Homo sapiens: one gene and its partners. The protein of the gene in region 1 purifies or fractionates together with the protein of each later gene. This does not show direct contact. Each region holds a gene or a part of one and is shown in the gene's direction. Other genes may lie near its edges. The genes, in order: MFSD6, EIF3CL, MRPL19, DCTPP1, ITIH3, FNDC3A and THUMPD3.

The links.
Region 2: the proteins of MFSD6 (region 1) and EIF3CL purify together in Homo sapiens (affinity purification with mass spectrometry; one large-scale study listed by BioGRID and IntAct). This does not show direct contact.
Region 3: the proteins of MFSD6 (region 1) and MRPL19 purify together in Homo sapiens (affinity purification with mass spectrometry; one large-scale study listed by BioGRID and IntAct). This does not show direct contact.
Region 4: the proteins of MFSD6 (region 1) and DCTPP1 purify together in Homo sapiens (affinity purification with mass spectrometry; one large-scale study listed by BioGRID and IntAct). This does not show direct contact.
Region 5: the proteins of MFSD6 (region 1) and ITIH3 purify together in Homo sapiens (affinity purification with mass spectrometry; one large-scale study listed by BioGRID and IntAct). This does not show direct contact.
Region 6: the proteins of MFSD6 (region 1) and FNDC3A purify together in Homo sapiens (affinity purification with mass spectrometry; one large-scale study listed by BioGRID and IntAct). This does not show direct contact.
Region 7: the proteins of MFSD6 (region 1) and THUMPD3 purify together in Homo sapiens (affinity purification with mass spectrometry; one large-scale study listed by BioGRID and IntAct). This does not show direct contact.

What each region holds. Positions count from the first base shown.
Region 1 is NC_000002.12:190,488,355-190,491,854, forward strand, and holds part of MFSD6 (major facilitator superfamily domain-containing protein 6), read left to right. Parts: intron 1-302; coding exon 303-464; intron 465-1,413; coding exon 1,414-1,512; intron 1,513-2,259; exon of another isoform or gene 2,260-2,464; coding exon of another isoform or gene 2,465-2,483; intron 2,484-3,500.
Region 2 is NC_000016.10:28,397,342-28,400,841, reverse strand, and holds part of EIF3CL (eukaryotic translation initiation factor 3 subunit C-like protein), read left to right. Parts: intron 1-172; coding exon 173-227; intron 228-355; coding exon 356-465; intron 466-843; coding exon 844-971; intron 972-3,500. UniProt on the Homo sapiens protein: Component of the eukaryotic translation initiation factor 3 (eIF-3) complex, which is required for several steps in the initiation of protein synthesis.
Region 3 is NC_000002.12:75,656,783-75,659,744, forward strand, and holds part of MRPL19 (large ribosomal subunit protein bL19m), read left to right. Parts: 3' UTR 1-2,962.
Region 4 is NC_000016.10:30,423,115-30,427,030, reverse strand, and holds the end of DCTPP1 (dCTP pyrophosphatase 1), read left to right. Parts: intron 1-2,497; coding exon 2,498-2,798; 3' UTR 2,799-3,416; downstream 3,417-3,916. UniProt on the Homo sapiens protein: Hydrolyzes deoxynucleoside triphosphates (dNTPs) to the corresponding nucleoside monophosphates. Has a strong preference for dCTP and its analogs including 5-iodo-dCTP and 5-methyl-dCTP for which it may even have a higher efficiency.
Region 5 is NC_000003.12:52,807,047-52,809,297, forward strand, and holds the end of ITIH3 (inter-alpha-trypsin inhibitor heavy chain H3 isoform 4 preproprotein), read left to right. Parts: coding exon 1-59; intron 60-539; exon of another isoform or gene 540-676; coding exon of another isoform or gene 677-700; coding exon 701-870; exon of another isoform or gene 871-903; intron 904-1,063; coding exon 1,064-1,175; intron 1,176-1,471; exon of another isoform or gene 1,472-1,505; coding exon 1,506-1,635; 3' UTR 1,636-1,751; downstream 1,752-2,251. UniProt on the Homo sapiens protein: May act as a carrier of hyaluronan in serum or as a binding protein between hyaluronan and other matrix protein, including those on cell surfaces in tissues to regulate the localization, synthesis and degradation of hyaluronan which are essential to cells undergoing biological processes.
Region 6 is NC_000013.11:48,974,470-48,978,711, forward strand, and holds the start of FNDC3A (fibronectin type-III domain-containing protein 3A), read left to right. Parts: upstream 1-1,442; 5' UTR 1,443-1,708; intron 1,709-2,192; exon of another isoform or gene 2,193-2,448; intron 2,449-4,242. UniProt on the Homo sapiens protein: Mediates spermatid-Sertoli adhesion during spermatogenesis.
Region 7 is NC_000003.12:9,380,054-9,383,553, forward strand, and holds part of THUMPD3 (tRNA (guanine(6)-N(2))-methyltransferase THUMP3), read left to right. Parts: intron 1-449; coding exon 450-565; intron 566-3,145; coding exon 3,146-3,256; intron 3,257-3,500. UniProt on the Homo sapiens protein: Catalytic subunit of the THUMPD3-TRM112 methyltransferase complex, that specifically mediates the S-adenosyl-L-methionine-dependent N(2)-methylation of guanosine nucleotide at position 6 (m2G6) in tRNAs.

The sequences.
Region 1 (3,500 bases):
TGGTGGTTGTCAGGGGATGGGACAAGGGGTGAGTGTAAGTTATGGTTTAAGGGGTACAGAATTTTTGTTGTGGTGGTGAAAAAGTTCTGGAGATGGATGGTGGTGACAGCTGCACAACACTGTGAGTGTACTCAGTGCCACTGAACCGTACATTTAAAAATGTGAAAATGGTAAATTTTTAATGTATGTTTTCCCACAACAAATCTTAAAAATAGGTGCCTAGTTAAATAATTCACATTTCAAAACAGAGTAGCCTAAGAAATGCTAACCAACTAATCCCTCCTGCTCTTCTTCCTCTCCAGGAGTGACACACGCGGCCATCTGGGCAGCATGCATTTCTTACCTCAGTGCAGCCGTTCCCCCTGAGCTGAGGACATCTGCTCAGGGCATCCTGCAGGGCCTTCACCTGGGTTTGGGAAGAGGATGTGGTGCCATGATCGGAGGCGTGTTAGTCAATTATTTTGGTAAGAATGGCTTTCTCCTTTTTTTTCTTTTCTATTATTAAAACATGATTTTTTCCAGCAATACCTCAATAAACAATCCAATTATTACTGAAGATTGCCCAAAGCTAAATTCCAGTATTCATAATCTCTTTCTAGATTTCATGGTAGTCATAATTGTAAAGCAGTGTGCTTACGTTGTTAAGCTGATCTGAGCCAGCCTGTAACTGTGCACACTCCTCTGACAATCAGCTTAATGAGATGCTACAGAGATCCCTCAAAGGAGCCAAACAAATGAATTAGCATGAGTGCTTTTGGTCTAAAATAAGGTACCTTAAACCTGCTGATAATAACCCTAAAGGAAATAAAATTCATCATTGTTATTCCATTAGGAGATTTTGAACCAGAAGAATCTAACCATATGCTGGCTTTGGTAATGCTACTACATTTATGGTAACAATATCTGTCTGTCTTGTCATATCTTCCTTATTAGAAACATAGGAGCTGAAATAGGAATGAGATTATTCTGCTCCAGGAATCTTAACTACTCAGTCATCTATTAATATATAAGGTGGGCCCCAGGAAATGCGTGCATTTATAGCACTATTTGAGCACTGCTGTTCCAACTACAGATTAATAGTGCTGTTAGTTAATAATTGGGTAAATGGTCTTTTCATATGAAGAGGAGAGCACCATTGAATTGTATGAGTCATGGTGAAAGGCACTGAGAGATAATCCTATATAAATGCAGTTTTATAATCGATCAATGACAGATCCAATATCAGCCCTGGGTCTCTTGACACGTACCCAGCCCTGTGTTTTTCCATTATGTGGAGCTAATACCCAACTACTTTTCTCTGGTTTGTCTCAAGCTGTGCTTCCTTTGCTTTGATCTTTAGAAAACTGATGGTTTTAGATGAGCGCTATCTGCATTTCTTGGAATTACTCTATAGAGTGCTGTTTGTTTTTATAGGGGCTGCTGCAACCTTCCGAGGAATTGGCATGGCCTGCTTGGTGATCCTACTGCTCTTTGCCCTGATCCAGTGGCTGGCAGTGCCAGATGAGGAAGAAGGTAATTATTTCCATTCTTTCTTAATATTCCTAACAGTTCAGGCCATGGGAAGTCAACAAATGCCCCGAGAAGCCTAGAAGTGGTACAGAGTATACAACAGGTCTGTTTGGCTCAATTTTCTGAGTGGCGTATCGATGAATTCATGTGGACTATTGTTAAAGAGATCCACCTACTATGCAGAAAAAATATTGTTTTAAGTAGCTTGGGGTTTTCTTGTTTTTTGTTTGTTTGTTTTCTTTTATAATACAAGGTACTAGGGAAGTATTAGTTTTCAATTTCTCTGGTATTCTAAAGGTTTTTCAAATTTAAGTCAAATACATATAAGGCTATACAGTCATTTTGCTACTAGGGATAGGGAGTGAGTGGTAATCTTCTCTATGACTTACCTTCATTTGTTAAAAAAAAAAAAAACAATGGCCGGGTGCAGTGGCTCACGCCTGTAATCCCAACACTTTGGGAGGCCGAGGCGGGTGGATCACGAGGTTAGGAGATCAAGACCATCTTGGCTAACACGGTGAAACCCCATCTCTACTAAAAATATAAAAAATTAGCCGGGCACGGTGGTGGGCGCCTGTAATCCCAGCTACTCAGGAGGCTGAGGCAGGAGAATGGCGTGAACCCAGGAGGTGGAGCTTGCAGTGAGCCGAGATAGCACCACTGCAGTCCAGCCTGGGGGAACGAGCAAGACTCCCTCTCAAAAAAAAAACAAAAAACAAAGACAAAAATGTCAAGACCTGAAATCTGAAGTTTTCTCTGAACCAGGGATGCCTTTATTAAGATTGTTCTACCAAAAGGAGGTTATATCAAATATTAATATGTAGATGAGAATGAGCTGACTCAACTTTTTATGAAAAAGGTCAACCAGGAGGATGAAAATATTTTTGCTCAGTTTTTTGGTCCCAGAACAGAGCTCATCTTCTTTGGGTGTCCTATCCTTTGCGGAGCATTAGCCTCAGGCCCCTGAAATGCTTCTGTGAAGAGAAAAACTTGCTTGTTACAGAAGCCTCAGAGACAGATTTTAATCTCAATGAGTTACTCAGAAAGAGCAATACTGTTTTTTCTTACTTTTGTTCTTTTATAATCCTAAATGGATTCTCTCTCTTACACAGCCTCAGTCCATGCCTCATGTAAAAGACCAATAAAAATAACTATCATGGCTCTCCCAAAGTTATAAGATGTAGTTAAAGTTGTATTTTGAGAAAAATGTATGGACTTGAATATCTTTGCTATTAATCACAAAAAAATTTAAAATCATTAATTAAACATTCAATGTAAGAAACATAAAAATAAGCAATCAAATTTTAACTCATCTTTGATTAGTGAGAATATGGTACTGGGTTAGTTTTTAAAATACTTGTGTTCTGGAGAGACTGTTATTGGGAAAATGGCAAGATAGGAGGCAGGATTAGGTTGCAGCTCACACTCAGGTGGACCGAGTAGCATGTGGAGACTTGCATCATGCTTTTGCTCCAGAACTACTGCAGGAATATACCAGGAAAGCTGAGAGAATACACAGACCCTCTGAAGGAAGCATATTGCTCCTGGAGGACCTGAGAGACAGGCCAAATATTGGGCTGGTATCCAGCTGAGAGACCTAAAGATGGTTCACATCACAGGACTCTATGCAGACAACCCCAGTACCAGCCTGGAGCCTGGTAGCCCTGCTGGGTGGGCTAGATCCAGAAGAGAAATGACAATCACTACAGCCTGGCTGTCAGGAAGCCACATCCCTCAGAAAACAGGGAGAGTACTACATCAAGGGAACACCCTGTGGGACAAAAGAATTGAACAGCAGCCTTGAGTGCCAGCCCTTCCCTCTGCCATAGCCTACCCAAATGAGAAGGAACCAGAACAACAATTCTAGTAATATGACAAAACAAGGTTCTTTAACCTGCCCCAACAAAATCACACTAGCACCAGCAATAGATCCAAACCAAGAAGAAATCTCTGACTTCCCTGAAAAAGAATTCAGAAGGTCCATTATTAAG
Region 2 (3,500 bases), on another chromosome or scaffold:
ACACTTACTGAACTGGGAACAGTGACCCCGTGACTGAGGCCCAAAGATGGAATTGCTAGTGGGAGGTGTGACTGGAGCAGGAAGATGACAGAACTGTCTGGGGTGGAGGGGTGGGGTGGGCTGATGGCTGGACAGCGTCCATGATTGTTCTCTCACTTCCCTCTCTGTCCAGAACCCCGAGCAGTCTGCGGATGAAGATGCTGAGAAAAATGAGGAGGATTCAGAAGGTGAGCCAAAGAACCTTTGTTGCAAATAGGAAGTCCAGAGTTAGTGTTGCCCTTCGCCTGGTTTCTTGGCTGCCCTCCAGTCTGGCTTTTCAACATTCAGGATCTTTTTCTCCCTCCATTACCACTAGGCTCTTCAGATGAGGATGAGGATGAGGACGGAGTCAGTGCTGCAACTTTCTTGAAGAAGAAATCAGAAGCTCCTTCTGGGGAGAGTCGCAAGTTCCTCAAAAAGATGGATGTAAGAGCCAGGGTTAGATGGATGATTTCCTGCCAGAGGTAGTTCCTGAGTCCCTGGGGGAAAAAGACAAGACTCAAACCCCTAGGGTTGGGAGGGGTGGAATTTAGTGGAGTTGAGAACAAGCTTCCTCTTACATCAGAGCAGTGGGCAAACAGGGATCTGGGCCCAGCTCTGCCAGGGGAAGCTGTGTGTGTTCCTGCGGCCAAATTGCAGCATCACTCTGGGACTTGATGGTGAGTCCCAGCCCTTGGTATCTTGATTCCATGAGTAGCTGCTCTTGTTCTACTCATGTAAATAAATCTCGAACATGCGTTAGTAAGGAGGAGACACCAGTCAATCTCCCTGTCTTCTTGCTGATCCTCTTTTCTTCCCTCTAAGGATGAAGATGAGGACTCAGAAGATTCCGAAGATGATGAAGACTGGGACACAGGTTCCACATCTTCCGATTCCGACTCAGAGGAGGAAGAAGGGAAACAAACCGCGCTGGCCTCAAGATTTCTTAAAAAGTAAGGAAAGTAGTGGGACCTAGGGTTACACTGGAACTGGTGGAAAGCTCTTAATTGTCTGGAAGGTTATTGATTCTTCCATGGAGTCCTTTTAGGTTGGAGCAGCCAACTGTTAGCATTTTACAGTAGGATCAGAGAGTCAAGTACATTAGTTGGCTAAAGTCACGAAGCTAATGTGTCCTAAAGATGAGAATTGAAGGCTCCAGAGTCCAAATATTTACCCACAGCCTTACTCACTGCGTGTGGATTGGGTGCAAATCTCACTTTGGCACCCGATACCTGTGTGACATTGGACAAACTACTTAGCCTGTCTAATCTTCAGTTTTCTCATCTGTAAAATAAGGCAGGGAACCCTCCCTTCCAGAATAGCTGCAGGAATACAGGGAGGTGTGATGTAAGAAAGTAGTTCATCTAGGACTGACGTGTGGTGAGCCCTCAGTGTGCGTTGCTACTGTGTTACCCTTCCTGATAACTTCTTAGTACACATACAGCATACAGACTGCCGCAAGTGTTCATGACCTTTACTGGGACAGTCAGAATAGGGGAGGATCCCAGTGTGGATTCTGTCTCCCAGCCTTTATCAGCTGTACAACATTGTATAAGTTACTTGACCTTAAGTCTTAGTTTCTCCCTTTGAAGTAAAAGTGATACCTGCTCTTTTGTATCCCATGGGAGTGAAATCTCAAGCTCACTAAAAATAGTGCTTTTATTTATTTTTTCTTAGCCAGTTTGCACAAACTACAGATAAAAAGTGCTTTTTTTGAGACAGGGTCTCACTCTTCCCAGGCTGGAGTGTAGTGATGCAATCTTGGCTCACTGCAACCACAACCTCTTGGGCTCAGGTGATCTTCCCACCTCAGGCTCCTGGGTAGCTGGGACTACAGGTACACTCCAGTACATCCGGCTAATTCTTGTGTTTTTAATACAGACAAGATTTCACCATGTTACCCATGCTGATCTTGAACTCCTGGGCTTAAGCGATCCTCCCGCCTCAGCCTCCCAAAGTGCTGGGGTTATAGGCGTGAGCCACTGCACCCAGACAAATAGTACCCTTTTAATGGGAAGATTATTGCTCTCAAGGTTGCTTTCCTGTGTTTAAAAGTTGTGGTCGTGCTGCTTTAGGGAGGTAGTGAGTTTCCAGCCCTCTAGAGGTCTAGAGAGGCTGAACAACTTACTTGGTGGGCATTTTGTTGAGAAGGCCTTTTTTGTCCAGTGCTTCAGGGAACACTGGTCAAGGTCTGGGCCACATTGTCTATCACACCCCTTCTTGGAGGGTTTACAACCACCTCTGGAAAGTTCCATGAGAATAAATATACCTAACTTTGTTTTATTAACCATCTCAAAAACTTGCTTGATCATGAAACTCGTTTTTTTAACCTGTTGACATCTTACAGAACTATCAGCGTTACTATTGGTTCAGGTCTTTTATATCTACTGTACTTTGTGTTTTTGTCTTTGAATAATTGTGTATTGAAGTCTCCCATTGTGTGGACTCCGGTGTGTGATGTGCACTGCACATGTGTGTTACACAAAGGCTCCTGTCTGAGGGAGCAAATGGGGCCTAAAATTAAACTTAAGACATCAAGGCTGGGCACGGTGGCTTACGCCTGTAATCCCAGCACTTTGGGAGGCCGAGGCGGGCAGATCACGAAGTCAGGAGATCGAGACCATCCTGGCTAACACAGTGAAACCCAGTCTCTACTAAAAATACAAAAAATTAGCCAGACATGGTGGCAGGCGCCTGTAGTCCCAGCTACTCGGAAAGCTGAGGCAGGAGAATCGCTTGAACTGGGAGGCAGAGGTTGCAGTGAGCCGAGATCGTGCCACTGCACTCCAGTCTGGGCGACAGAGCAAGACTCTGTCTCAGAAAACGAAACAAAACAAAAAAAACTCTAAGACTATAAAGCTATACTTTTATAAATACAGACTCAAAAGTTCTTAACAACATAGTAGAAAACCAAACACAGCAACATACAATAAGGATTATATGGGAGCACCCCCTCCTTGCCTGTAGGGGGATGGAGGATGGGTGGGCTCATCTCCCAAAAAAGTTTTAAAAAAAAATTTAATAACAAGGAGGATTTATCCCAATAATAGAAGGATGTTTTAATATGAAAATCAACTAATATACTATATCAATAGAATAACAGACAAAAGCCGTAGAGTCATCTCAGCAGATGCAAAAAAAAGCATTTGAAAAAAATCCTAATATTCTTTCATGATAAAAGACTGAAGCTAGGAATAGAAGGGAGCTTCCCTCTACCTGATAAAGGATGTTTATGAAAAGGACGTTTCCTGTCCTTTTATTTTTAACTCTGCCATGCTGTATGATTAAGAGTGTTTCTTGGCTGGGCGTGGTGGCTCACGCCTGTAATCCCAGCACTTTGGGAGGCGGAGGCAGGCAAATCACAAGGTCAGGAGTTCGAGACCAGCCTGGCCAACATGGCGAAACCCCATCTCTACTAAAAATACAAAAAAATTAGCCCGGTGTGGTGGCCTGCGCCTGTAGTCCCAGCTACTCATGAGGCT
Region 3 (2,962 bases), about 110 Mb from region 1:
TAACTCATTTCTGTCAGTTCTGGGAAACACTTAGCATTGGTTGATGATTTATTCTCTGCTGCTTTGTTCTCCCAACTATTATTTGGATGTTGGATATCCAGCACTGGGTATCTATTTTCTTACCTCCCTCCCTTGACCCCAGTCTCTGTTTTTTAGCTCTTTAGCTCAATCTTCCAACTCTTTGCTATTGTATTTTAAAATCTTAAGACCCCTTCTTGATTTGTAGAAGTTCCTTTTCTTACAACCAAAAAGCCTTTATCTATGGATTTGTTCACAGATAAGGGGTATTCAATATAGTGTATTTTTTTTTCATTTAAAATTGTTTGCGCATCTATTTCCTCCAAATTTCTTTCTGTATTTATTTTTTGTTGTCTATATTTCAGACTTTTCCAGGATATCTGATAATCTTTGGCTGTCTTCTTATGGTTGAAAGAGGGACTAAAAAGCTTGGAAAGCCTTTGGGTTGTGGGAAGGGGCTGTCTTTAGGATTATCTGAATGGGCTTTTTTGGGAGTCCCCTCCTCCACATGAATATTTTGGTTTTGTCAGATTCCCTAGAATAGAGGCTTCCAATCTCCTTCCTGGAGGGGTCTGTCCAGGAAGGAGATTGTCTAGGGGTCTGTCAGACAGCAGCTTTCAGCTACTTCCTTGATCTTTTTCACTAATGATTATATAGTCATCTAACTACTGTCAACAAGTAATAGATATCCTATCCTTCACTTGTTTAGATTATTTGCTGAGATAACCTCTCAAAAGAACCTCTCAAAATAAAAGGTTAACAAGAGCCTATATCTTATATTTTTCTTCTCTTTATCTTGTTAGAAGATAGCTATTAAAACCTGTTCTTTTTCTGTCTTGATAAACACACTTCAATCTTGGTAGAATGGTAGATGGGACAGTATATTTTAGGACCTAAAGCTCTGCAAATGTATGATCAGCTTGTAAGTACAGGTGCTCAAAAACATGTAAACAATCATGCTTTTTACTCTGTAGGAATATCTTTAAAATTCTTGTGAATTTTTCCCCAGAAGTAAAGCAAATCTTCCCCCAGAAATAAAATTAAATGTGCATAATCTAAAGCTTTTTTTTTTTATTGTGGTAGGATATATATATAAAACATAATTTGCCATTGTAAACATTTTAAATTTACAAGTCAGAGGCATTAATTACATCACAATGTTGTGAAATTATTACTACTATTTCCAAAATTTTCTCATCACCCCAAACTGAAACTCTGTAACTGTTGAGCAATAACCTCATTCCTGTATCTCTCCCAACCCCAGGTAACCTCAAATCTTTCTTTTTATCTTTGAGACAAGGTCTCATTCTATCACTCAGGTAGGAGTGCAGTGGTGTGATCATAGCTCATTGCAGCCTCAAAATCCTGGGCTCAAGCAATCCTCCTTGAGTAGCTAAGACTATAGGCACACATTAACTGCGCCTGGCTGATTTTGTTTTTTGTAGAGATGTGGTCTTGCTATGTTTCCCATGCTGGTCTTGAGTTCCTGGCCTCAAGCAGTCCTTAAGATTCATCCATGTTGTGGCATGTGTCAGAATTTCATTTGTTTTTATGACTAAATAATATTCCATTGTATGTATATACATTTTGTTCATCCATCTTCTGATGAACACTGGGATATGTCTACCTTTTGGCTATTGTGAATAATGCTGCAGTAAACATTGACATAACAAGTATGTATTTGATTGCCTGTTTCTAAGTTCTTTTGGGTATACATCTTGAGTAGAATTGCTAGATAATGTCATGTTTTATTTCTCTTGTGATTTCTTCTTCGATCCCCTGGTTGAGTGTGTTAATTTCTACATGTTTATGAATTTCCCACTGTTTTTTTGTTATTGATTTCCAAGTTCATTCCATTGTGATTAGAGAAGATACTTAGTATGATTTTAATGTTTTTGAGAATTGGTGTGTGGCCTGATAGATGGTCTGTCCTGGAGAATGTTCCTCATACACTTGAGCAAAATATTTATCATGCTATTGTTGACTGTAGTTTTCTATATGTCTCTTAGGTCAAGGTGGTTTACAATGTGTTAAGGTTCTCTTTTTTTAAAAAAATTTTTGCACAGAGTATCTTTTTCTATGTGTTCCATGTATTTGTGTCTTTGGAGCTATAGTCTCTTGTAGACAGCATATCACTATCTTGTTTTGTTTTGTTTTTTCTGTCCATTCTGCCAATTTCTGCCTTTTGATTGGAAAATTTAATCCATTTGCATTTAAAGTAATTAAGGAAGGACTTTCTTCTACCATTTAACACTTCTTCTATATGTCATATACTTTTTTGGCCCCTCATTTCCTCTTTATGGCCTTCTTTTCTGTTTTTTTGTAGTGAACTAGTCTGATTCTCTTTCCACTCCCCTTTGTGTATATTTGTTAGATGTTTTATTTGTGGTTGCTATGGGGATTATAGTTAACATCCTACACTTAAAACAATCTAATTTAAACTGATACCAATTTACCTTCAATAGCATACAAAATCTCTACTCCTGTAAAGCTCTGCCCCTGCCCCCCTTATGTTATTGATGGCACAAATTGCCTAATAAATAATTTATAGTTATTTGTATGAGTTTGTCTTTTAAATCATTTAGGAAATAAAAAGTGGAGTTAGAAAACAGTATGATAGTAATACTGACTTTTATATTTGTCAATATATTTATCTTATTTTGGATCCTTATTTCATTATATAGATTTGAGTTACTGTCTAGTGCCCTTCCATTTCGGCCCAAAGGATTCCCTTATGCATTTCTTGCAGGGCAAGTCTAATTGTAATAAACTCCCTCAGCTTTTGTTTTATCTGAGAATGTCTTGATTTCTCCCTTATTTTTGATGGATAATTTTGCCAGATACATGAATTTTTGGTAACAGTATTTTTCTTTCAGCACTTTAAATATGTCATCCCACTACCTTCTGACTTCATGGTTTCTCATGAGATATTAGATGTTATAAA
Region 4 (3,916 bases), on another chromosome or scaffold:
CTCAAAAAAAAAAAAAACCCAACGAAAAAGGTCCAGGTGCGGTGGCTCACACCTGTAATCCCAGCACTTTGGGAGGCCGAGGCAGGCAGATCACCTGAGGTCAGGAGTTCAAGACCAGCCTGGCCAACATGGTGAAACCCTGTCTCTACTAAAAAATACAACCATTAGCTGGGCATGGTGGCACACCCCTGTAGTCCCAGCTACTCGTGAGGCTGAGGCAGGAGAATTGCTTGAACCCTGGAGGCAGAGGTTGCAGTAAGCCAAGATTGTGCCACTGCATTCCAGCCAGGGCGACAGAGCAAGACTCCGTCTCAAAAAACAAAACAAAACAAAACAAAAAAGACCAGCCTGGCCAACAGGCTGAAACCCTGTCTCTACTAAAAATACAAAAATTAGCCGGGTGTGGTCACAGGCGCCTATAATCACAGCTACTCAGGAGGCTGAGGCAGGAGAATCGCTTGAATCCGGGAGGCAGAGCTGGCAGTGAGCCAAGATCACGCCATTGCACTCCAGCTTAGGCAACAGCAAGACTCTGTCTCAAAAAAAAAAAAAAACCGGCCAGGTGCTGTGGCTCACACCTGTAATCCCAGCATTTTGGGAGACCAAGGCAGGCGGATCATGAGGTCAGGAGATCGAGACCATCCTGGCTGACACGGTGAAACCCCATCTCTACTAAAAATACAAAAAATTAGCTGGGTGTGGTGGCAGGCGCCTGTAGTCGCAGCTACTCAGGAGGCTGAGGCAGGAGAATGGCGTGAACCTGGGAGGCGGAGCTTGCAGTGAGCCAAGATCGTGCCACTGCACTCCAGCCTGGGCGACAGAGCAAGACTCTGTCAAAAACAAAAACGAACAAACAAAAAACACACAAGGTGACGAGCCAGGAGGTGACATCTAGGCTGAGCCCTGAATAACAGGAAGGAGCTAGCCCTGGGAATGATGGGGGATGGGGAAGCATTCAAGGCAGAGGGAGCAGTGAATGCAAAAGGCCTGTGACAGTCTGGCCTGTGTGCAAGGCAGAACAAGCCAAAGTGGCCTTAGGCGGGGAGTGAGAGTGGGGGGCAGTGGCATTGGAAAAGGCAGGCGTCAGCCCATGCAGGACAGGAGGGCTTTGTCAAGAGTTTAGATTGTATTCCAAGCACAGTTTGTATTTTAGCAGAGAAGGGGAAAAATACAATTTGTGGGGTCTCGTTTTGTTTTGTTTTGTTTAGTTTTTGAGACGGAGTTCTGCTCCTGTTACCAAGGCTGGAGTGTGATGGCGTCATGGCGGGTCACTGCAACCTCCGCCTCCCGGGTTCAAGCGATTCTTCTGCCCTCCTGCCTCAGCCTCCCAAGTAGCTGAGATTACAGGCATGCGCCACTATGCCTAACTAATTCGTATTTTCTGTAGAGATGGGGTTTCACCTTGTTGGCCAGGCTGGTCTCGGACTCCTGACCTCAGGTGATCTACCCACTTCACCCTCCCAAAGTGCTGGGATTACAGGCATGAGCCATGGCACCCAGCCAATTTTTTTTGTTTCATTTTGTTTTGTTTTGTTGTTTTTTTGAGACGGAGTCTTGCTCTGTTTCCCAGGCTGGAATGCTGTGGTGCGATCTCGGCTCACTGCAACCTCTGCCTCCTGGGTTCAAGAATTTCTCTGCCTCAGCCTCCTGAGTACCTGGGATTATAGGTGCCCACCACCATGCCCAGCTAATTTTTTTGTATATTTAGTAGAGACGGGGTTTCACCATCTTGGCCAGGCTGGTCTTGAACTCCTGACCTCATGATCCACCCGCTTCAGCCTCCCCAAGTGCTGGGATTATAGGCGTGAGCCACTGCGCCAAGCCTGATTTGTGCTTTTAAAAGATGGTGTGGGCCGGGTGCGGTGGCTCATGCCTGTAATCCCAGCACTTTGAGAGGCCGAGGAGGGCGGCTCACCTGAGGTCAGGAGTTCGAGACCAGCCTGGCCAATATGGCAAAACCCTGTCTCTACTAGAAAAACAAAATTAGCCGGGCATGGCGGCACATGCCTGTAATCCCAGCAACTCGGAAGACGGAGGCAGGAGAATCGCTTGAACCCGGGAGGCGGAGGTTGCAGTATCGCCCCATTGCACTCCACTCCAGCCTGGGCGACAGAGCGAGACTCCGTCTCAAAAAATAGAAAAGATGGTCTGGGCAGGAGTAGAAGATGAGCTAGCCAGGAGATGAGTGGGGAGGCTTCTGCAGTGGTCCAGGTCCGAGGTTTGGTCTGTGGTGGTGACGGCTAGGGCTGGAGAGAATTAGAATTGGGCCTCAAAGCTTTGTCTCAACAGATGAAACATTCTTTTGGCCACTCCTTGGCCCAGGGAGAGACACAGACATCTTGGTATCATCTGTCGGGGTCTCTTCCCCACCTGACTCTTCCCAGGGCCCAGATTGGTTAGGTCGTCCTTGGAGGTGGGTGTTATTACTGCAAGGACTGGCAGAGCCCATTGCCCCAGGTTACATCTGAGTGTGTGTCTGTCTGTGTTCTGCCCCTAGTCAGTGGAAAACCGATGGGGAACCTGGCCCCCAAGGCTGGTCCCCCAGGGAACGGGCAGCCCTTCAAGAGGAGCTTAGTGACGTCCTCATCTACCTGGTGGCATTAGCAGCCCGCTGCCGTGTGGATCTGCCGCTAGCAGTGCTCTCCAAAATGGACATCAACCGGCGACGCTACCCAGCCCATCTGGCCCGCAGCTCTTCCCGCAAGTATACAGAATTGCCCCATGGGGCCATCTCTGAAGACCAGGCTGTGGGGCCTGCGGACATTCCCTGTGACTCCACAGGCCAGACCTCAACCTAGAAAGATGGCCACAGGACTTGCAACTCAGGGTGGTGTCTGAAGAGCAGAGAGTGGCCTGGCCCTGGAGCCTTTTTCTAGTCTTTTCAGAATAGATCATGGGCCTGAGGCCTCCACTTCTTGAGGTCTGAGGCCCAGCAGCCTCTAGAAGGTAGCCTCCTGGTGTTTGTTCTCCCAGTAAAATGGTTTTGGGCGATAACTTCTAGATTATTCCTGGATGGCCAGGGAGGCTCTCTGTCTCAGCAGGTGATGACGGGGGTACCAGGGGTGCCTCTGAGACCCATTCTCGTGTTTCCCTGTTGTACCTTTTGCCTGCAGGGCAGAGAGATCTGGTTTCTAGCAAATTCCCAGTAGGATGTCATGTAAGTTCCTTCCCCCTCTTAGAGATTGAAGGCTGTAAGAGTCCAGATGGTGGAGCCAGGCTGTCTGGGTTCAAATGCCATCTTTGACACTTGCAAGCTAAATGACATTACTCAAATTAATCGTTCTGCACTTCAGCTTCCTTGTCTATCAAATAAAAAGAATAGTACCTGCCCAATAGGGTCGTGAGGTTTCAATGAGTTATGTGAATGCTCAGGGCGGGGCCTGGCACATAGTAAAGTACACTTGGTAAGTTTTGCAGTTACTGTTATTACCTGTTTTCCTTTTTTTTTTTTTTTTGAGACAGAGTCCTGCTCTTGTAGGCCTGGCTGGAGTGCGGCGGTATGATCTCGGCTCTCTGCAACCTCTGCCTCCTGAGTTCAAGCGATTCTCATGCCTTAGCCTCCCAGTAGCGGGGATTACAGGTGCCCACCATCACGCCCAGCTTTTTTTTTTATTGTTTTGAGACGGAGTCTCACTCTTTCGCCCAGGCTGGAGTGCAGTGGTGTGATCTCGGCTCACTGCAAGCTCCACCTCCCGGGTTCACACCATTCTCCTGCCTCAGCCTCCCGAGTAGCTGGGACTACAGGTGCCCGCCACCACGCCCGGTTACTTTTTTGTATTTTTAGTAGAGATGGGGTTTCACCATGTTGGCCAGGCCGGTCTTGAACTTCTGACCTTAGGTGATCTGCCCACTTTGGCTTCCCAAAGTGCTGGGATTACAGGCCTGAGCCACCGTGCCCAGTCGTTTGCCTTTTTAT
Region 5 (2,251 bases), on another chromosome or scaffold:
AACAGGGCCGTGCCGAGCACTTTCAGCTGGCTGGACACAGTCACAGTCACGCAGGATGGGTAAGCTCCCCTACAAGGTCTCCAAGGTGGACTACAGGGTGAGAGTCTAAGGAGGCTCTTGAGGGATTTAGAAAAATCCCAGGACAGGAGATCCATGGGGGTCACAGGAAAGATCAGAGACCCCAGAATCCAGTCTCCTGTCACAGGGGAGGGTGACCATAGTGGCCCCCAACCAAACCCTGGGGCCCTATCAGAGCCAGAATTGGTAGCTGCACAGTTCAGCTGGTTGGGTGAAGGCATTAGGTGATAATGGCCCCCATTTGCCTCTTCTGTGGCTGCTCTTGTCTTCTTAGCTCTCCTGTCTTCAGATCCCCCAGAGCCTCCCACTGAGGCTCAGAGAAGGTGTGGAGCCTGCCCAATGTCACTCAGGAAGTCAGTGGCTTAGCTGAGGCTGGACCACAGGCCTCCAGATTCATAGGCCAGCCCTCTCTTTCCCACTTATAGACACTCAAGGATCCACTCACGGGAGGGGAGACAGTGTGCATGAGGCATCCTCTTTCCAACGCCCCTGAGATAGTTTCTGGAGTCTGTGGGCCCTCGGGTGCCATGTACAGGGGAGGCCCCACCAAAACGCCCTTGAGTCAGATGCCCAGTGTCACGGCCACTGGGCCCCACAGCCACTTTCTGGCTTCCTCTCGTAGGCTGTCCATGATGATCAACAGGAAGAACATGGTGGTCTCCTTTGGAGATGGGGTTACCTTCGTGGTCGTCCTACACCAGGTGTGGAAGAAACATCCTGTCCACCGTGACTTTCTAGGCTTCTACGTGGTGGACAGTCACCGGATGTCAGCACAGACGCATGGGCTGCTGGGTACGAAGTGTTCAGACTGCAGGCTGTTCAGGCCTGAGAGCAGCATGGGAAAGACATACACAAGGCCTTCCTAGGCACCCTGTACCCAGCTCACAACACCCCATTCAGCCTTTGCATCAACCCTGAAAGGCCAGTGGCCACGTTACCCGTGGCAATGGCCAGGGGCTGACAGCATGAATATTTTTCTTCCCAGGGCAATTCTTCCAACCCTTTGACTTTAAAGTGTCTGACATCCGGCCAGGCTCTGACCCCACAAAGCCAGATGCCACATTGGTGGTGAAGAACCATCAGCTGATTGTCACCAGGTGAGGAGACTTCTCCCACACCCTCACCTGCTCAGCAACGAGAGGAGGAAAGAGCACCTGCAGCCCAGGCACATTAGTCTGGTGGGCTTTTGTCTTCTGTGGGGTACCCTTGTTTCCCTTTGAGGTCTTGGCCCCTCCCAGGCTCTTGCTAATCAAGAAAAAGCCCAAACTTGGCTTCCTCGAAAGAGTAATCATGTAACTTCATTCTTGACCAAAGAATTCTGGGCTGTTAGAATTGCCAACTTCCCACCCTTTTTCAATCTCAGGTCCGCTAGCCTAGCAGCCATCTTACCCACCCCGTGTATTGCAGCATCTCTCTTCTTTCCCCAGGGGCTCCCAGAAAGACTACAGAAAGGATGCCAGCATCGGCACGAAGGTTGTCTGCTGGTTCGTCCACAACAACGGAGAAGGGCTGATTGATGGTGTCCACACTGACTACATTGTCCCCAACCTGTTTTGAGTAGACACACCAGCTCCTGTTGGGATGGATGGCCCGGATTTTATGGCATCTGGAACATGGGCACAGAGAGGGGCCTGTGGGAGGGGCTGGGAAAATAAAGTCCAAGGTCGAGACCAGACAGCTGCCAGCCTCTACATGCCTTCATGAGCCTCTGCTCCAGGGAACAGGCAACTGGGACCCACAGCAGCTCAAAAGAGGGGATGGCTAGCAGGAAGGCAACTTCTTGGGCCTCTCCACTGACACAGCTGAGAGACAGAGTTGGTTGGACTAGAACTTTAGGGATTCAAATGTATGACAGCTTGGGGGAAAAAATAAAGAACTGACTCTGAAGGAAAGGGGCTCTGAGAAGTCAGGAAGGGTTGAATGTATTTCAGTATCCAGGAAAGTCATAAGATAAGTAAATGGTCCCGGCTCAGGAGCTCCAATCAGGACCTTTAGAAGTAGATAATACTCCAGTGCAGATACAGCCCACATCTAAATGGGGATGTCAGCCACCCTTCCATCTATCCATCCATCTATCCACCATCCATTCACCCATCCCTCCACCCATCCATCCATTCACTCACCCACCCACCCATTCACCATTCAACCATCTGTTCACCCACGTATCCACTCA
Region 6 (4,242 bases), on another chromosome or scaffold:
TCTGATAAAATCCTCATACTTTGAAACAATATACAGTTATACTTCAATTATTCCAAGATCAACTTGCCAGCTGTCTCGAAGAGGGCCAAATCCAAAAGTTAAGAAAAGGAAACATCTCTCACAGGGAAAGAACTTCTGATAGTGAAGAGCAATGAAAATATCTCAAGATACCACTGCCCTATTTACAACCAGAAGAAAAGAAACCTCTCATTAGCTGGCTGTGGACATAAACATCCCATCAATCTTCACCTGGAGCCGCAGAGAAAACCAGCCGAGAAAGGAGAGAAGAATGAAAAATAAACAGTAAAGCAGAAAGAATAAGAGGAAGGATCAGAGTGGATAGAGGCAGATGAGGAGATGAAAAGCAGTGAAGGATTTTAGAAGAGGTGATGAGAACATTCCAAAGAGGGAAAAAAAGAGAGCACCAAAGTAGGGATTCTATACACCGCAGCAATCCTCTGGGACTTAAACGTATGGCCAAGATATCGGTTTGAGAGTCAGTTATCAACAAAGGATTTAATTAGCCATTGTATTCTTTAAGAATATAGAGAATAATCACATTTTAAAGAGATTTCTGTAAAACAGTTTTAAAAATACAGCTATTTTAAAAGATCGCACAATTAATACACTGAAATAAAGCCCAGACATGCAACTTGTTACATCCATCACCATTTTTGAAAGGACAGTTCCTGAGGCTGGACTCACCGGCCCAAGTACTACCCCCTCCCCAGGTCTCCGGCGGCAACTGTAAGTCAAAAGCCCTCAGGCATTATTGCAGCGTCCCACATTGTTTGAGGTTCCAGGAAGTCGCTGCTACGCTCACTTGTAAGTCTTCGTGCTGTTGTAAAAATTGAGGTCGTGGTTTTCCACGCGATTTGGCTGGCGAAGAGACCACGAAGCCACCCCCCACGTTTTCAACTGAGTAAATATCTAAATATTTTTGCTTGCTATCCAGATCCTGGGTTCGAAGTCTTTGGGATTAGAAACTTCCAAGCCCATTTCAGAGGCTTCCTAGTCCTTGGGAGGAGTGTCTTTTAAAGCACCTGCCAGCCTTAAGTTCGCGTGCTTTCGGAAAGGGGCCGACAGGGTGCGTCTCAGGGGAGCCTTTTGAAATGTGGATTGAGAATTGTGTGAGTGTCTCTAGGAACCTCCATTAACTCCACTTTTCCTGAGTGTAGCTCCGAGCCTGGCCACAGCGGATGCTACCACAAGCCAGGCGCAGCCGGGCCTCGGGAGAAAGCCGGAAGCCCGAGAGGGTGTGGGCGCTCCGGGAGCCAAACGCGGCCGCTCAGCCGCCACGCGCCGGTGGCCCCGCGGGGACTCGCGTTCCGGTGAGAGAGCCCCGGCGCGGCGGGCTCGAGGCGGGGGTTCGGGGTCCCGGCCGCGGGCTCCGTCGGCGGGGCCCGCGCAGCCGCACTCGGCGCGCCGACTTCGGGCTCCTCCTCCCGGCTCCGTAGTAAGCATGGCGGCGGCGGCGTTCGTGGTCCCTCGGGTGAAACAGAAAGCGGGAGCTACGCGGAGAGGGAGCGAAGAGCGGGGCTGAGGCGGCGGCGTCACTGCCAGGAAACAACCCCAACAGTCAGCGCGCCGGCGGCCGCGGCGGCCCTGAGAGCTGACTCTGCAGCTGAGGTAGAGAGACAACGATCAGGAACCCTAAGAAGAGGCGCCAGAGGAGCCGCCTTCTGCCTCAGAACGGCGTGACTCGGAGGTGAGAGCGCGGGCACTCCCTCCGCGAAAGGCGGGGGACACCGAGCCGTCCCAACCCCGTCCCGCCCCGGAGGAGGCGCCGCGGAAACCGTTAGGCTGGGACTGAGGGCCGGGGCACTCTCCAGGGCTCGGCCCCGTCGAGGGGCGCGGACCACCCCCTTCTGTGGGCGCGCTGTGGGCAGAGGTGCAGAGGGGCAGTGGGGCCGGGGACAGGACCGGTCTACTAGTCGGGCACCTGCCGGGGCCGAGCCTAGCCAGGACACGCTTGCGGGGGCGCGGCCGGGGGCGCCATCCAGCCCAAGAGGAGGCGGCATCTAGCCCGAGGGAGGTGGCGCTGGTGCGCGGGCGGCCCTTCTCTCTGTCCCCCGCCTCCTCCCCGCGGCGAGCCGCGTAGCTCCGGAGGGCTCGGGGGCGGGGGCGGGGGCGGGGGCTGGGGCGGAATCCTCCTGAGAGGATCGCCCAGCACCCGCGGCGCCTTCGGCTTTGGCCGCCCGGCAGCCGCCGAACTTGAACGCTTTTCTGAAGAGAGTTTTCCCCGCTCATCTTGGGGTTAAAACCTCGAAAACCCGCCCTCTGTTTGATCCTGCGTGGCTGCTTCCAGTACCTGGCAGTTCCTCTCCCCGGGCGAGTTAACCACCTGTTCAGTCGGGAGGTGGACTCGAGGCTGCAGTCCTCGCCCGGTTTTAACAACCTGGATCTTCGAACTTTTGACACGGCTTTGGAAACGACGTCATGTGTTAGGTAAAGGAAAATGAACAGATAATTTCGCTGTCAGATTGCGAGCAGAAGAGGGACTGTTTTAATGGATGTGGTCGTTAATTGTTCTTTTATTCAACTGTTAGCGTTACAAGCCTTGGGATATTTTAGAGGGTGGAATGCGATGATTTGCTGGGGGTGCTAGAGATTGTGAATTCGAGATTTTCTTTTGTGAGATTTTACGTAAGTTCCTTTGGACACCTTTGTGTCTGACCATCTATTAAATAAGAGTCGCAGGCTGATGAGATTTTTTTTTTCTTTTTGCGGTATAATCATTATGTGTTCACTATGGGTTTTTAAAACCGAACAACGTAATTATTTTGCTTCTTACTGTGGTCTGTGTTTTTTAGTTCTTGAAACCAAAGTGTGTATGCTTCTGTATTGTAGGAATGAAATAACAGTTGAACTCTTACTATAATATTTTATCACCATGCTGTTACCAGCTCCAGTACTAAACATACGCCACTCAGGAGTTTGAGCCATATGTTAGGCAGAAACGAATTGAGTTTTGTGGTTCTGATCTTATGTTTGGATAAATATTTAGTTTTTGCGTATTTACTAACTCTTGTCATCTTGTGTCACCCACAAATGTTCAAGTGAGTTGAATCCCCTGTCTTTTGGATATTTTCTTGGTTGAATTAATTTTTCTTAAGTAATGAGATGAAGTACTCACTGAGACAGATGGTGGCCCAACAGAAAACAGTGATGAAGGATTTTTACCACATCTTTTATGAAATATAACCTGAAATGTTGCTTTTAGCTTTGTAGCCTACTAATCTTGCTTTCTAATCACACCAGTTAGTGGGAAGAAGGGATGATGACAGGAGAAACATCTTGTTAAAATTTTAATATTAAATCTTATATTTAAATTTTTTAGCACTACTACATTAAATTTTACTATATTGTCTTGTTTCATTTCATAGATCATCTGTTAGTTTTCTATGTGTAGGTTAACTGGAAAATTTTTTATCCCAGGCTGGCTACCGTTAGCCACCTGTATGCTTCTGAATTAACTCCCTCTTTTTCCCTTTTGTCTGAATCCTCCAAATCATTGAATGCTCCGGAAAAATAAAATCCTGGTTAACACTGTCAAGCATAGTTATAAGGGTAATTAATTTATCCCAAATTAATAATAAGCATTAAAAAAAACATTCTAGGATTATCTTCTTTTGGTGACGTCTGTGTCTTCACTTCCTCTATCTGTGTGAGTAATTGAGACCTGATTTATTTTAACACACATGTAATGATTACTCTTTACTAGTCACATTTCTACAATATAATAGTAAGCATATTTTATTACTAATTTAAAAATTTCTCCCTCTTCCCTGACCAGCCAGACATAGCTAAGGGCTGAGACATCCTTAACCCCCCGAAAAAAAGAGGGAATGCATGATTCATATTCTCATTGTCTTTTGTAGTTTTAGGCAAAGAGCATTTAATTTATACTTTATCAATTTTTAGTAATATTTGCGCTGTTTTAAAACATTTGCATTTTTTAAGATGTTCATGACATCCAAGGCTTGTGTATTTTATAATCTGCCAGTATTTTTAAAATACAATTTGATGAAGTAACCAAAAACGTTTTTTTTTTGAAACATTGTTGGTGCATTTTTGAATGAAAATGAATCTAGATCGTGTCTTTGAGAATGGTGTAGGGATATGCACATGATTTCCAATTTTATTAGCCAGATAACTAAGTGATTAGTGTTTCTGGTTTTTTTTTGTTTGCTTTTGTTTTTTTTGTTTTGTTTTTAGCATTGCCTAGCGGACTTCAAATAA
Region 7 (3,500 bases), on another chromosome or scaffold:
ATCTCAAATATTTTCAAACCGCATTAACTTAGAATTTAGTGTGCCAGACACTGCTGGATGAGGAACTGAATAAAATACTAGACCTGACCTCAGAGAGCTCCCAGGTTAGTTGAGAGGCATAAAGGGGAAGAAATAATTAACCGTGGGACAAGTGCAGTGGCAGAGGTACGTACATACAAAGTGTTTTTGGGAGGGGCACATAAGACTGCTTGGAGAGTTAAGGTTGATGTTGAAAGGGCATGAGGTTTGAGCTGGGTCTTAAGAGATGGGTAGAGGTTCAGCAAGCAGAGAAAGAATAAGAGGGCATTTTCAGCCAGGGAAATAGCACAGTTGACAACATGCAATGTTTTGCCACTCTAGAAAAGCACTGGATTTTCTTTGTTTGTTGACAATTTAATCATATTTTACAGTTTGCTACTTTTGTTTTAACATACACTCTTATCTTTTAGGGGGCCACTGAATGGTCTGACTGTTTCCATATTGCTGGTGATAATAATCCACTGGCTGTGAATAGAGCAGCAAATAACATTGCATCTTTATTGACCAAGAGCCAAATTAAAGAAGGGTAAAAATTTAAAAGATTTCTTAGCATCTTTTAGAGTTAGAGAATCACTTTTTATATTGACTTTATGAATTAAAACTCCCAGTGCATTGTGACGTCATTGTAACCAAAATGAATATACTATGAGACTCCATTTACATTTTTAAAGTTTATTGAAAATAAGTTATATTTTTAAAATATTATTTTAGCGATAATTTCCCCACCATATGCAATTTTTCATTTGTCTTATTCATATGTCTTTTCCCCTACATATTGGAAGAATATTTTATAGACTCATTTTAATTTCACAAAATTTTAAACAGTATATTTTTACATAGGCTTCTTTTTTGCTTTGGGTACAGGGTCTCATTTTGTCACCCAGGCTGGAGTGCAGTGACATGATCATGGCTCACTGTAGCCTCAACCTACTGAGCTCAAGCAATCCTCCTGCCTTGGCCTCCCTAGTAGCTAGGAATACAGGCATGTGCCACCATGCCCAGCTAATTTTTTAAAATCTTCGTAGAGATGGGGGTCTTGCTGTTTTGTCCAGGCTGGTGTCAAACTCCTGGCCTCAAGAGATTCTGCCGCTTCAGCCTTCCAAATTGCTGGGATTAGAGACGAGTCACCACACCTGGACCATAGTCTTTAAAGTCACTACATAAATTCCATCGTATAGAAATACTGCAGTTTATATAGCCTCGCCTCTATTTTATTACTAAGTCATTGGTTATATATTTCATTGTCTCTCTGATCTAATTTTTTAGGACAGTGCTTCTCAAACATTAATGTACATGTGAATCACCTAGGAGTACTGTTAACACAGATCTGATTTAGTAGTTTGGGATGGGACCTAAGAGTCTGCATTTTCCAGGAAACTCCAGGACAATGCTGATGCTGCTGGTCTATGTATCAACATTAAATCCTTTTACGTGTATTAAGACAAGTAGTTGGAAGGCTTCAATTTTCTTAAATACTGATTTATTGTGATGAATTAATTTTGAATGGTTGTTTCATATTTATTGAGGGTTTTTTTTAATGAGCCTAGTATATGGCCAGTCTTTTTTTTTTTTAATTAAAACTGATAAACATTTAAACAAACGTACCTTTCTAGCTTCTGAATATTTTATCTTGTTTGTACCTACACTGTCTGTTCAACCCGTACTTTTTTTTTTTTTTTTTTTTTTTTTTTTTTTTTTTTTTTTTGAGACGGAGTCTCACTCTGTCGCCCAGGCTGGAGTGCAGTGGCTTGATCTCGGCTCACTGCAAGCTCCGCCTCCCGGGTTCACGCCATTCTCCTGCCTCAGCCTCCCAAGTAGCTGGGACTACAGGCACCCGCCACCATGCCCGGCTTATTTTTTTTTTGTATTTTTAGTAGAGACGGGTTTTCACCATGTTAGCCAGGATGGTCTCAATCTCCTGACCTCATGATCTGCCCACCTTGGCCTCCCAAAGTGCTGGGATTACAGGCATGAGCCACTGTGCCCGGCCTCAACCTGTACATTTCTATCCATTTTACTTTGGTTTTTAATATTTTTTGCCTTTTGTTTTGTGCAGTTATTGGTATGCGGTTATAATACATATTTTATGTGTACTTTTAAAAATTATGTAATGATTGCTTTTATTGCATTTTTTTCTTAAATTCTTCATTAAATGTCAATTAAATCCTTAATTTCTGCTGATAACCTTTGACTTATCTTCAGTTCTTAGCCTGTGCATTATTTTGTTTCTTAAACCAGTTGCTTTGCCTTAATGAGGAGGATTTAAATCCTTTGTATTTATTATTATTCATTCTGTCTTCTGTCATCTATATTTTTTATCTTAACTTTTTTCTTAGTCTTGTTTTATATAGCATGGCACATATTTTCCTTTTGGTTTTTCATCTTGAAACAATTACCTATATATTTGCCAATTTTACTATCTGTTTTTCTTTTAGGCCTCCTGTTATTACTAGTTTTACAAACTTTATTCTTCAGATACATCACCCCATTATCTATTCTTTAGTATTGTTTTTCTCCAGTGTATGTTTTATCAGCAACTTAAATTTTTGTATCATCGGTTATGTAATTTACTGCTTCAGCATTGTTTTTAAAGTTGTCTTTTGCAGTTCTCTGCATTACAATCATGTTTTCAGTTTGTTTCCCTTTTTTCTGAGACGGGGGTCTTGCTCTGTCACCCAGGCTGGAGTAAAGCGGCACAATCCTAGCTCACTGCATCTTTCAACTCCTGGACTCAAGTGATCCTCCCACCTCAGCCTCCTGAGTAGCTGGGACTATAGGTGTGTGCCATCATGCCCTGCTAACTTCTTAAAAAAGTATTTTAGAGACAAGGTCTCACAGTGTTGCTCAGCTGGTCTCAAATTCCTGGAGTCCAGTGATCCTCCCACCTCAGCCCCTGAAAGTGCTGATTATAGGCACAAGCTACCATGCCCAGCCTGACCTATTTTTTACCTTTGTGCCATTTCTTAAATTTTGAATAGGTTGATATTATCACTGATATCCTTAGCAGTTTATGTTTTGCTGTAGCAGTCTCTCTTCAGAAACAAAAATTGTTGTAATAACTTTATGCTTCACAGTATGTTGAAGCACCTTTCCTTTGTCCCCACAGCAAACCCTCCTGGGGCTTGCCCATAGATGCTGTTCAGTGGGATATCTGCAATCTGCCATTGAGAACTGGCTCTGTGGATATTATTGTAACAGATTTGCCATTTGGAAAAAGGTGAGAAATACTAGTACCTGCTTGTCTTCTAAATATGTCATTATTTTCCTTGCGTTTATTCTAAGTCAGGAAAAAAATCTTGAATTTTAGCAGACTTAGCAGAGCTGTTTTTCACTTAACAACATGATGGATTCACCCATTATGTTTCTTCCGAGAACTCAGGAATGTATTAACTACATTTGGAATCCTGACCATCATGGGAGGTTCATTTTTAAATTACCTGTAATTCACTTTCTAGCCCATT